Linked DNA regions of Homo sapiens: regions 1 and 3 are each reported to be linked to region 2. Evidence: microRNA targets listed by miRTarBase, many of them from high-throughput screens and not tested one by one. Region 2 holds a microRNA gene; each other region holds the end of a gene's coding sequence.
What was found. Region 2 holds the annotated microRNA hsa-miR-129-1-3p (AAGCCCUUACCCCAAAAAGUAU, at 911-932, shown strand). A microRNA usually pairs through its seed, bases 2 to 8, with sites in the 3' UTR of a target mRNA and lowers its output. Matches are read on the target gene's strand: a 7mer-m8 pairs with bases 2 to 8, a 7mer-A1 pairs with bases 2 to 7 and ends in A, and an 8mer does both.

Region 1: the mRNA of KLRD1 is a reported target of hsa-miR-129-1-3p. Seed matches in the 3' UTR shown: 7mer-m8 at 2,307-2,313.
Region 3: the mRNA of CHCHD7 is a reported target of hsa-miR-129-1-3p. Seed matches in the 3' UTR shown: 7mer-m8 at 2,048-2,054.

What each region holds. Positions count from the first base shown.
Region 1 is chr12:10,314,358-10,317,357 of GRCh38, forward strand. KLRD1 (killer cell lectin like receptor D1) reads left to right here. Exons shown (of 6, transcript NM_002262.5): 6 at 316-3,000. The coding sequence ends at 436. Among named protein-coding and RNA genes, the nearest start is that of KLRD1, 8.0 kb to the left of the region's middle.
Region 2 is chr7:128,207,010-128,210,009 of GRCh38, forward strand. MIR129-1 (microRNA 129-1) reads left to right here and starts at 863; the gene lies at 863-934. LOC124901744 (a long non-coding RNA gene) reads left to right here. Exons shown (of 2, transcript XR_007060516.1): 1 at 1-66.
Region 3 is chr8:56,216,685-56,220,038 of GRCh38, forward strand. CHCHD7 (coiled-coil-helix-coiled-coil-helix domain containing 7) reads left to right here. Exons shown (of 4, transcript NM_001011671.3): 4 at 647-2,125. The coding sequence ends at 751. Among named protein-coding and RNA genes, the nearest start is that of CHCHD7, 6.6 kb to the left of the region's middle.

The DNA of each region.
Region 1 (3,000 bases), not on the chromosome of region 2:
CCTAGACTAGATCAGATAATACATCTTAAATAAAATAGAAGAAAAGCATATCACATATTTAAACCATTAATGACAACAGAAAAACAGCAAGGAAAAAATCCCTGGCCTCAATGCTATTGATTAGTGAGAAAATAACTGGGTATTTTGTAGCATTACACTAGAAAATCATGAAAATTGTGGTTACTGAAAAAAAAAGGACTCAATATGTTAGTATCTCACTCAAATGCTTTTAAAATTTATATCATTTAATTGAAAAATGCCCTGAACATTCTTACTTCCTTTTTGTGTATGTGAACATTTTCTTCTTCATTACAGATTTCCATCATTTGAAACTTTTAATACAAAGAACTGCATAGCGTATAATCCAAATGGAAATGCTTTAGATGAATCCTGTGAAGATAAAAATCGTTATATCTGTAAGCAACAGCTCATTTAAATGTTTCTTGGGGCAGAGAAGGTGGAGAGTAAAGACCCAACATTACTAACAATGATACAGTTGCATGTTATATTATTACTAATTGTCTACTTCTGGAGTCTATAAAATGTTTTTAAACAGTGTCATATACAATTGTCATGTATGTGAAACAATGTGTTTTAAAATTGATGAAATTCGTTCACCTACATTTGAGAATTATAAAATTAACATAAAGAATTTTGTATTTTCATTTAATGTATATATTTAATGTTAAATTCAATGTAGTTTTATTACACATTTATGTAATTTTATTTACATTCTTGCTAATTCTCAGCAGAAATTTAAATAAGATTTAATTCACATCAAATAAAATTTAGAAAATAAAATTTAACTCACACTGCCCAGGCTGGAGCATAGTGGCAAGATCATAGCTCATTGCAAGCTCAAGTGATCCTCCTGACTCAGCCTCCCAAGTAGCTAGGACTGCAGGCACCATGTCACTATGCCCGACTAATTTTTAATTTTTAATTTTTTGTCAAGACAAGGTCTTGCTATGTTGCCCAGGCTGGTCTTGAACTCCTGGCCTCAAGGGATTCTCCCACCTTGGATTCCCAAAGTGCTGGGATTATAGGTGTGAACCACCATCCCTGGCCCTCTTCACATTCTTGTATGAAGATTGATTTGGGAAAAATGCATTTCAGGTAACTGACAAAAGATATAGGATGAAAAATAATATCTTTCAAATGTTTAATTTGAACTAAGAGAGCTTATGCATTGCACTTTCTGGAGATTTGTAATGTTTTGGTTTTGTTGTCCATGTGACTACAAAATAATATATTTTTTAATTAAAAAATTTAAAATAATACAGGCAAGCATGTAATGATTATCAATATTTTTTTCCACCAACTATCCTATACCCCTGACCTCCTTTCATTAGGCATTATCTTCTGTTTTGATTTTAACACTTAGAGTGGTTTTCTCTGTTATGAATCAAAGCTGATCTATTTTCATCATTTTTGTGATGAAAAAATTAATTTTGATTGACTTAGGATGGAAGGATTTGGACTGGGTGTGGTGGTTTATGCCTGTAATCGCAGCACTTTGGGAGGCCAAGGCGGGTGGATCACTTGAGGTCAGGAGTTTGAGACCAGCCTGGCCAACATGGTGAAACCCTGTCTCTACTAAAAATACAAAAATTGGCTGGGTGTGGTAGTGCACACCTGTAATCCCAGCTATTTGGGAGGCTGAGTCGAGAGGATCGCTTGAACCTAGGAGGTGGAGGTTGCAGTGAGTCGAGATTGCACCACTGCACTCCAGCCTGGGTGACAGAGCCAGACTCCTCTCCAAAAAAAAAAAAAAAAAAAAAAGATGAAAGGATTTGGAACCTTAATTGCATCTGAAAAACTGCCTCACCTTTGTTATTTAGTGTACTCCAACCACGGAGTAACATCCCATCATAATCCCAAATCCTACTCAAACAAAAGGGGAAGGGATTATGCAGGTGTACACTAGGCCACTGGTGTACCAATTAGAAACCACTTTAGAGTTATGCCTACTGTACCCACATAATCCTAAAAATATGTTACAACTGCTACTTCATAGTTTATGCCACTTATTTTATTTTTTACTTTTATTATTTTTTTTTCTGAGACACGGTTTCATTCCCATTGCCCAGGCTGTAGTGCAATGATGCAATCATGGTTCACTGCAGCTTCAACTTCCCAGGCTCAAGGGATCCTCCCACCTCAGCCTTCTGAGTACTTGGGACTCAGGTGCGAGCCATCATGCTCAGCTAATTTTTTGTATCATTTGTAGAAATGGGGTTTTGTATTGTTGCCCAGGCTGATCTTGAACTCCTGGGGTCAAGGATTCTGCCCGCCTTGGCCTCCTAAAGGGCTGGAATTACAGGCATAAGCCACTGTGCCCGGCCAGTTTATATAATTTAAACACTGCCTTTTGGTTCCTTGATTCCCATATGCTAGGACAAGTAATTATTATTTTATTTTATTTTACTTTAAGTTCTGGGTTACATGTGCAGAACCTGCAGGTTTGTTACATAGGTATACATGTTCCAAGGTGGTTTGCTGCACCTATTGACCCATCATCTAGGTTTTAAGTCCCACATGCATTAGGTATTTGTCCTAATGCTCTTCCTCCCCTTGCCCCCCACCCCCCGACAGGCCTTGGTCTGTGATGTTCACCTCCCTGTGTCCATGTGTTCTCATTGTTCAACTCCCACTTATTAGTAAGAACATGTGGTGTTTGGTTTTCTGTTCCTGTGTTAGTTTGCTGAGAATGATGGTTTCCAGCTTCATCCATGTCGCTGCAAAGGACATGAACTCATTCTTTTTATGGCTGCATAGTATTCCATGGTGTATATGTGCCATATTTTCTTTATCCAGTCTATCACTGATGGGCATTTGGGTTGGTTCCAAGTCTTTGCTATGGTAAATAGTGCTGCAATAAACATACGTGTGCATGTGAGGACAAGTAATTATTTTCTGTTTTTCTCAATACATTAATTATTAGTTCCTCCGTTAGTTGTGAAGTCCTAATTAGGGAAAAGGAGTTAGGCTGGCGGGAGC
Region 2 (3,000 bases):
CAAACCTGCAATGGTGACACTTCTGGAATCTCCTTGCCTCTTCCAGGGCTGCAGCCTCTAAGGCAGGTAAGACCCAGGCCAGGTTGGCTCAGGGACCTCTGTGTAGCATTGCTGACCTCATGTTATGGAAGCAGGAGGCCACTGTGAGATGCGGGGCTTAGCTGCCACCTTGGAGAAACAGCTCATTTGAGACAGCCAGGAGCAATTTAATCAGGCTAAGTTGGCCTGGCCCTGGGACCCCTGCCTTTTCCATGACAGCAGCGTCTGCTGAAAGCACATCAGAGCCCACACTTGCAAGTTCAAAGATGTCTGTCCCCAAGGTCTCAACCAGGGATGGCATCTTCTTCTTGGGGCACTTAGCATTTTGAGACTCTGGGAGAGTCCCCTGTGGGAACTGGGTGTACTGACACTGTGGAACCAAGGAAGCACCACGGCTGCAGAGAGACCCTGGGCCAGACCATCCAAATGAAGCCCAGGCACAGCAGAGGGCTCTGAGGAGGCGCAGGATGCAGGAGATGAAAGGGGAAAATGAAGGGGAGCCGCAGGTTCAAACTGCCCCTTCCCAGGAGTGAGCTACAGCTTGGCCACTTCTGTCTCATAAGAAGGAGGTTGTGACTTTGGGAGGTGGAGGGGGATTACAGCTGGGATTCCTGTTGCCTGCCTCCTGCCTCTGGGGCTCTCAGCTTTCTCTTCTCCCCAGGACTCTTTTCTTCCTCTCCCCCCACCTCCCCCCCCACTCCCCTCCTCCCCCTAGGTCCTGGCTCTCCCTCCCCGACCCGGTCTTCTTGGTACCAGCTAAGCCCTGGAGGGGCCACAGCCTCCCCTCCAGCCCCCCTGCCATGGGATGGCTGCTGTCTCCTTTGGATCTTTTTGCGGTCTGGGCTTGCTGTTCCTCTCAACAGTAGTCAGGAAGCCCTTACCCCAAAAAGTATCTGCGGGAGGCCTTGTCCACAGGGGAGGCTGCCCCAAGGGCTCCAGGTGAGTCACAGCAAACCCAAGAACAGTGAATGGAACTGGGGTCTCCTGGCTCTCCTTTAGAGTTGCTGAGTGACTTTAAGTCCAGCACTGAGCCTCTCTGGGCCTCACTTATGCCACTCTTTTCATCATTTACCAGTGGGCAATGTCAAGTGAGAGACTCCACAGATAAGAAAAATAAAGGAGTGGCTCAATTACATGCCAGGGAAAACCGCTTTGGTGGATGAAGGTCACACAGCTCTCCCAGCATTCTGTCCTCTGTATACAGATGATCTCCTTCTGAAATCCTTTTGGGGATGACCCCCTTCCACACCATGGACACTTCTGGGTGGGTTGTCACTCAAGAGGTCCTGCCCTCTTCTGCCCACTGGGTGGACACAAGAATTGAAATCTGTAAAGGATACTGAGATTGGGAACAAAATAATTGATGCTGATTGATCCCAGCAGTGTATGGCGAGAAGATGACAAGCTTCCACTGCCTGTATCACTGACTTGCCTAATGTCTGCCCTGCCCTGGCCTGGATCTTAACCGCGCCCTTCATTCTGTGAACTACCCCCAAATCCTTCAAATAAAGTCCTTGATTGCTTGTTAGAGTCAATAATATTGCTTGCTGAGGATCCAGAGACCTCTAGAGAGAGGAGGTGGAATTGCACACCCTGGGAAAGAGGAAGGTGTGAGTTACCATCCCTGGGGGAGGCCCCACAGGTGTCAGCCCTCAGGGGGCAGGGGACTGACAGGGGACAGAGCTGACAGCAGGGGTCATATACAAGAGTTGGGTTGGGGGCCTAAGGAAACTTCCCCAAAGGTGAGAACCATGTTGGGATAAAGGACAGAGGAGGACCTATATGATATGGAGAGAAGTGAAATACAGCTAAGTGGGGTCCTCACCTCTAAAGAGGCCAGGGGCCGGGCACATCTGTAATCCCAGCACTTTGGGGAGCCGAGGTGGACAGATCACTTGAGGTCAGGAGTTCAAGACCAGCCTGGCCAACATGGTGAAACCCCGACTCTTACTAAAAATACAAAAATTAGCTGGGCATGGTGGCGCAAGTCTGTAATTGCAGCTACTTGGGAGGCTGAGGCAGAGAATCGCTTGAACCAAGGAGACAGAGGTTGCAATGAGCCGAGACTGCGCCACTGCACTCCAACCTGGGTGAGAGAGCAAGACTCCATCTAAATAAATAAATAAATGGGGCAGAAAACAGGTTATGCCAATTACAGGTTGTTGTAGATTCCCAGTCCCTCCTCCTCATGCCGGATAGCTGGGGGATCGACACTGCAGCCGCGGTGAGGCCACGGCAGGTCAGGAATGACCACACGGACATCCATCTTGTTGTCCACCACTGACAATGAGACGGATGACCAGGCTCCCGAGTGCCGAGTGCCGTAGTGCTCTGCGGCCAGGAAATGGCCAGGGGCCAGGGACCCTCCTTATCTGGAATCCTCCCACTCGGCCCTGGGGTGGCCACTTGTGCCGAGACAGCCCAAGGTTGGGGGCGTGGCATCAGGCCTCCCCAAGGCCTTTACTGCTGCAGAGCCACAGCCCTCAAGAAACAAGGCCCCTGGAAGATTCCTTCCCTAAGCAGAAGCTGCTGGAGGCCATTTTAAGGCAATATGTGAGCTGGCGTGTCGCCTGCAACTGAGTTCAGAGGTGCTAAAGGATCCTGAGTGGGGCTGGGGGTTTGCTGTGGAGGTTCAGGAAGAAAGGCTGGGTTTACGGGTCCAGGAACAATTACTGCAGGTTTGTGAGGCCAACCGAGCCCCCACTAGGTGACAGCCAGACAGCAGTGGGAGAAGGGACGATGGCGACGAGCAAAACGGCACGGCTGAATAATACCTGTGACCACGGGAGCTCCTGCCCCTGATGCTATCCTGACCCTCCCCATCCCACCCAGCTGCAAAGCAGTTGTTGCTCTGCCACCTGCTGCCAGCATGCGGGTGGGAATGCGTGTGCAGCTCAAGGGTGGCATCGTGTGGTCATAGTGGGGTAGTGCACCTCACAGCTTCCAAAGAGCTTCATTCTG
Region 3 (3,354 bases), not on the chromosome of region 2:
AAAGATCCTTGAGAGCTCTTGTTAGCTGCCTCGTCGTCCTCTAAGCTATAAGAATGCAGTTTTAATATAGGTGGGTCTTCTTAGACATTTAAGTATCTGCAGCCCTAAAACAATGTCTTTGTTATAAATTTAGTTTTCCTGGAGATGAACAGAATGTTTAACTTCCCTTGTCATAACACATCATGTTAGGCTTCAATTTCTGCCTTTTTCTCTCTCACTGCCATCCGTGGAAGTTAAAATGGTCCATTTTTCTGAAAACATTGGTATATAATTTCTGTTTCCTTGAACCACGGGATCCAGCTATTTCCTTTCGCTTTGCTAAATGCACTGTTGGTTTTATTTCACGATTATTCAGTAGCTCTTCTTGACAGACTGTATATACTTTTGTACTTTGTACTTTGTATATTCTCATCCCAATTGCTGTTAATGTATTCCTGTGGGAATGAGTACTTCTATTTAATTGTTACTAATTTAAATACGTTTATCTGGAGTCCTATAATTAGGTTTTGGGATTTTTTTTTTAAAAAAAACTTGGTTTTTAGAATTTCCTTTTTGAGGAAGCAATAGCAAATTACTGGCAAATGATTAGCATTTAATACATGACTGATTTTGGTTTCTTCTTTTTTATTTTAATGCCTGTACACAGAATTCTATCGTGATGCAGAGAAGAAAGAACGGAGTGAAGCCATTTATGCCTACGGCAGCAGAAAGAGATGAAATCTTGAGAGCAGTGGGAAATATGCCCTATTGAATGTTTGCATTAAAAGTGTTTATATAACTTAGAAGCAGATGAATATTTCTAATAAATGATTGCTGTAATATTTAAGACTGTACACCCCTCACCCAGACAGACCTTAAGTTCTTCAAGTGGAGACAGTGAAGTCACCCCGTGTCCTTTTTGCTTGCTCTCAGTGCCATGCCGATGGTATGTTGCTGTTGGCTGTGTTGTGGCATGAGTTTGCATGACTTTCTGGAGGCATGGAGTTAGGTAAGGCTACATGAGAAATTGAGCTTTTCCACTGGGTTTTGAAAGAAGAGTATGATGTGAACAAGTAAAGACTGAATGGGGCTGAGATGAAGGCAATGTTTCCAAGGAAAGGAAATGTTATGAGCAAGAGTGTGAGGCAAGAGAAGCTGGAACCACATTCAGAGAGTATCCTGTAGATTGCTCCACCTAGAATCTCAGGTGGGTGGAGCAGTGGTGGGAGAAGACTGGAAAGGTAAGTTGAAGGTAAGGAATGTGTGGTGGGCCTCAGATCCCAGGCTCATTCCTCAAATCACTTCTTACTTCCCTCACTTATCTTTGTTTAAATAAGGTTAGTACATTCACTAGGGGCAAATGGGTTTTTCTAAATAAATGACATAAAAAAGAACTGGTTGTCTTTCTTTAAAGAAAGTCTTAGTTACAGGATTCTGTGATTAAAATCCTTAAATATTGGGTTGCCTTCTGCAGCTGTAGTATCAGTTTTTGAACCACAGTAATGGGAAGAAAGACAAATGGATTCCCTTAGAAGTAAGATTTCTATTTGCAGGATGAGTTGGGCAGGGAAAAGGGTCAGGGTTCATCAGGTGAACTCAACACTGGGATGAGACTAGAACTTCACTTTATGATATAAACACAATACGATTATTCAATGTGGTGACTGGGGTAGACTGTGAAGCAGCCCTCCTTATGCCCACTGCCTTTTAGAATCGTTTGTTTTATTCATGGTAGTTTTATGAAGACATACTATTATTGAATGAAATTTAATGTGTACTTGAAAACATTGCTTTTGTCCCTTCTCTTCATCTGGTCTTGGGTCAAGAACATTGTTTTAATGGCTGCCGACAATGAACTGTCTGTCTGAGTCTAAAACCAAGCTCAGGTTTCTAAGCCACATGACCTTGATTGTTAAATGTAGTTATATTTGAATAAAAAATGAATCATTTCCAAAATTCTTTTGATTTGTATTGACTGCTATAAAAATGATGGATTAAAATAGGACCAGAAAAGAATGAATGCCTACCTGTGTAAGAAGTATTTTTGTATTTTTAAGCACACTTGTTAAAGGGCTTGGAATTTTAATGTCACTCCTTTGAAGGTACATACCAATATCAACATTCATCTTGTAACTAGTTGTCCTGATGCCACTCTTGTTGAGTCTTTATTTTCAGTACCTTTGCCTTATTGCTGAGCACTTCAGGTAAAGACTTGGACACCTGCCTTCCCACCAGGCCCTCGTGCCCGCTGGGCCTCTGGGTTGAGGTTGATGTAGTTCAAGAACTGCAGTTGGCTGCCGGGCGCGGTGGCTTACGCCTGTAATCCCAGCACTTTGGGAGGCCGAGGCAGGCGGATCACGAGGTCAGAAGATCAAGACCATCCTGGCTAACATGGTGAAACCCTGTCTCTACTAAAAATACAAAAAAAAATTAGCTGGGCGTGGTGGTGGGTGCCTGTAGTCCAAGCTACTTGGGAGGCTGAGGCAGGAGAATGGCGTGAACCTGGGAGGCGGAGCTTGCAGTGAGCCATGATGGCGCCACTGTACTCCAGCCTGGACGACAGAGCGAGACTCCATCATAGAAAGAAAAAAAAAGAACTGCAGTTGGCTTACCAGTGGCACTCTGTAGGGAGCTATAGTTCTGGAGATTGCGGAAGAAACTTTTTTTTTGAGATGAGTGTCGCTCTGTTGCCTAGGCTGGAGTGCAGCGGTATTATCTTGGCTTACTGGAACCTCTGCCTGCCAGGTTGAAGTGATTCTCGTGCCTCAGCCTCCCAAGTAGCTGGGACTACAGGCACCCATCACCATGCCCAGCTAATTTTTGTATTTTTAGTAGAGATGGGGTTTCACCATGTTGCCAGGCTGGTCTCAAACTCCTGGCCTCAAGTGATCCACCTGCCTCAGCCTCCTAAAGTGCCAGAATTACAGGCATGAGTCACTGCAACTGGCCCAGGGGAGAAACGTTTAAATGCTCAGGACCAAGGGATAGCTCAGTCCAAACCTGGATGTGGGGGCAGAACTAGAGCTGCAGGGTTCGAGTGATCACCAGAGCCTCCCTCCTAGGACTGTGGCACATGGAGTCCACACAAAGACATGCCTCTTACTTGACTTCCTGAAAGACTTTAAAAAGATAACAGCCTTATTGAGATATGTCATGTATATCAACTCTTAAAAGTATGCAATTCAGTGATCTTGTATATTCATGAAGTTGTGCAGCTATCACCACAATCAATTTTAGAAAGTAATCATTTCATTACCCCAAACTGAAACCCTGTACCTGTTAGCACTCACTCCCCTTTTCATTTTACTTTTTATTTATTTATTTTTTTGAGAGAGACTTGCTCTATCGCCCAGGCTGCAGTGCAGTGGCACAATC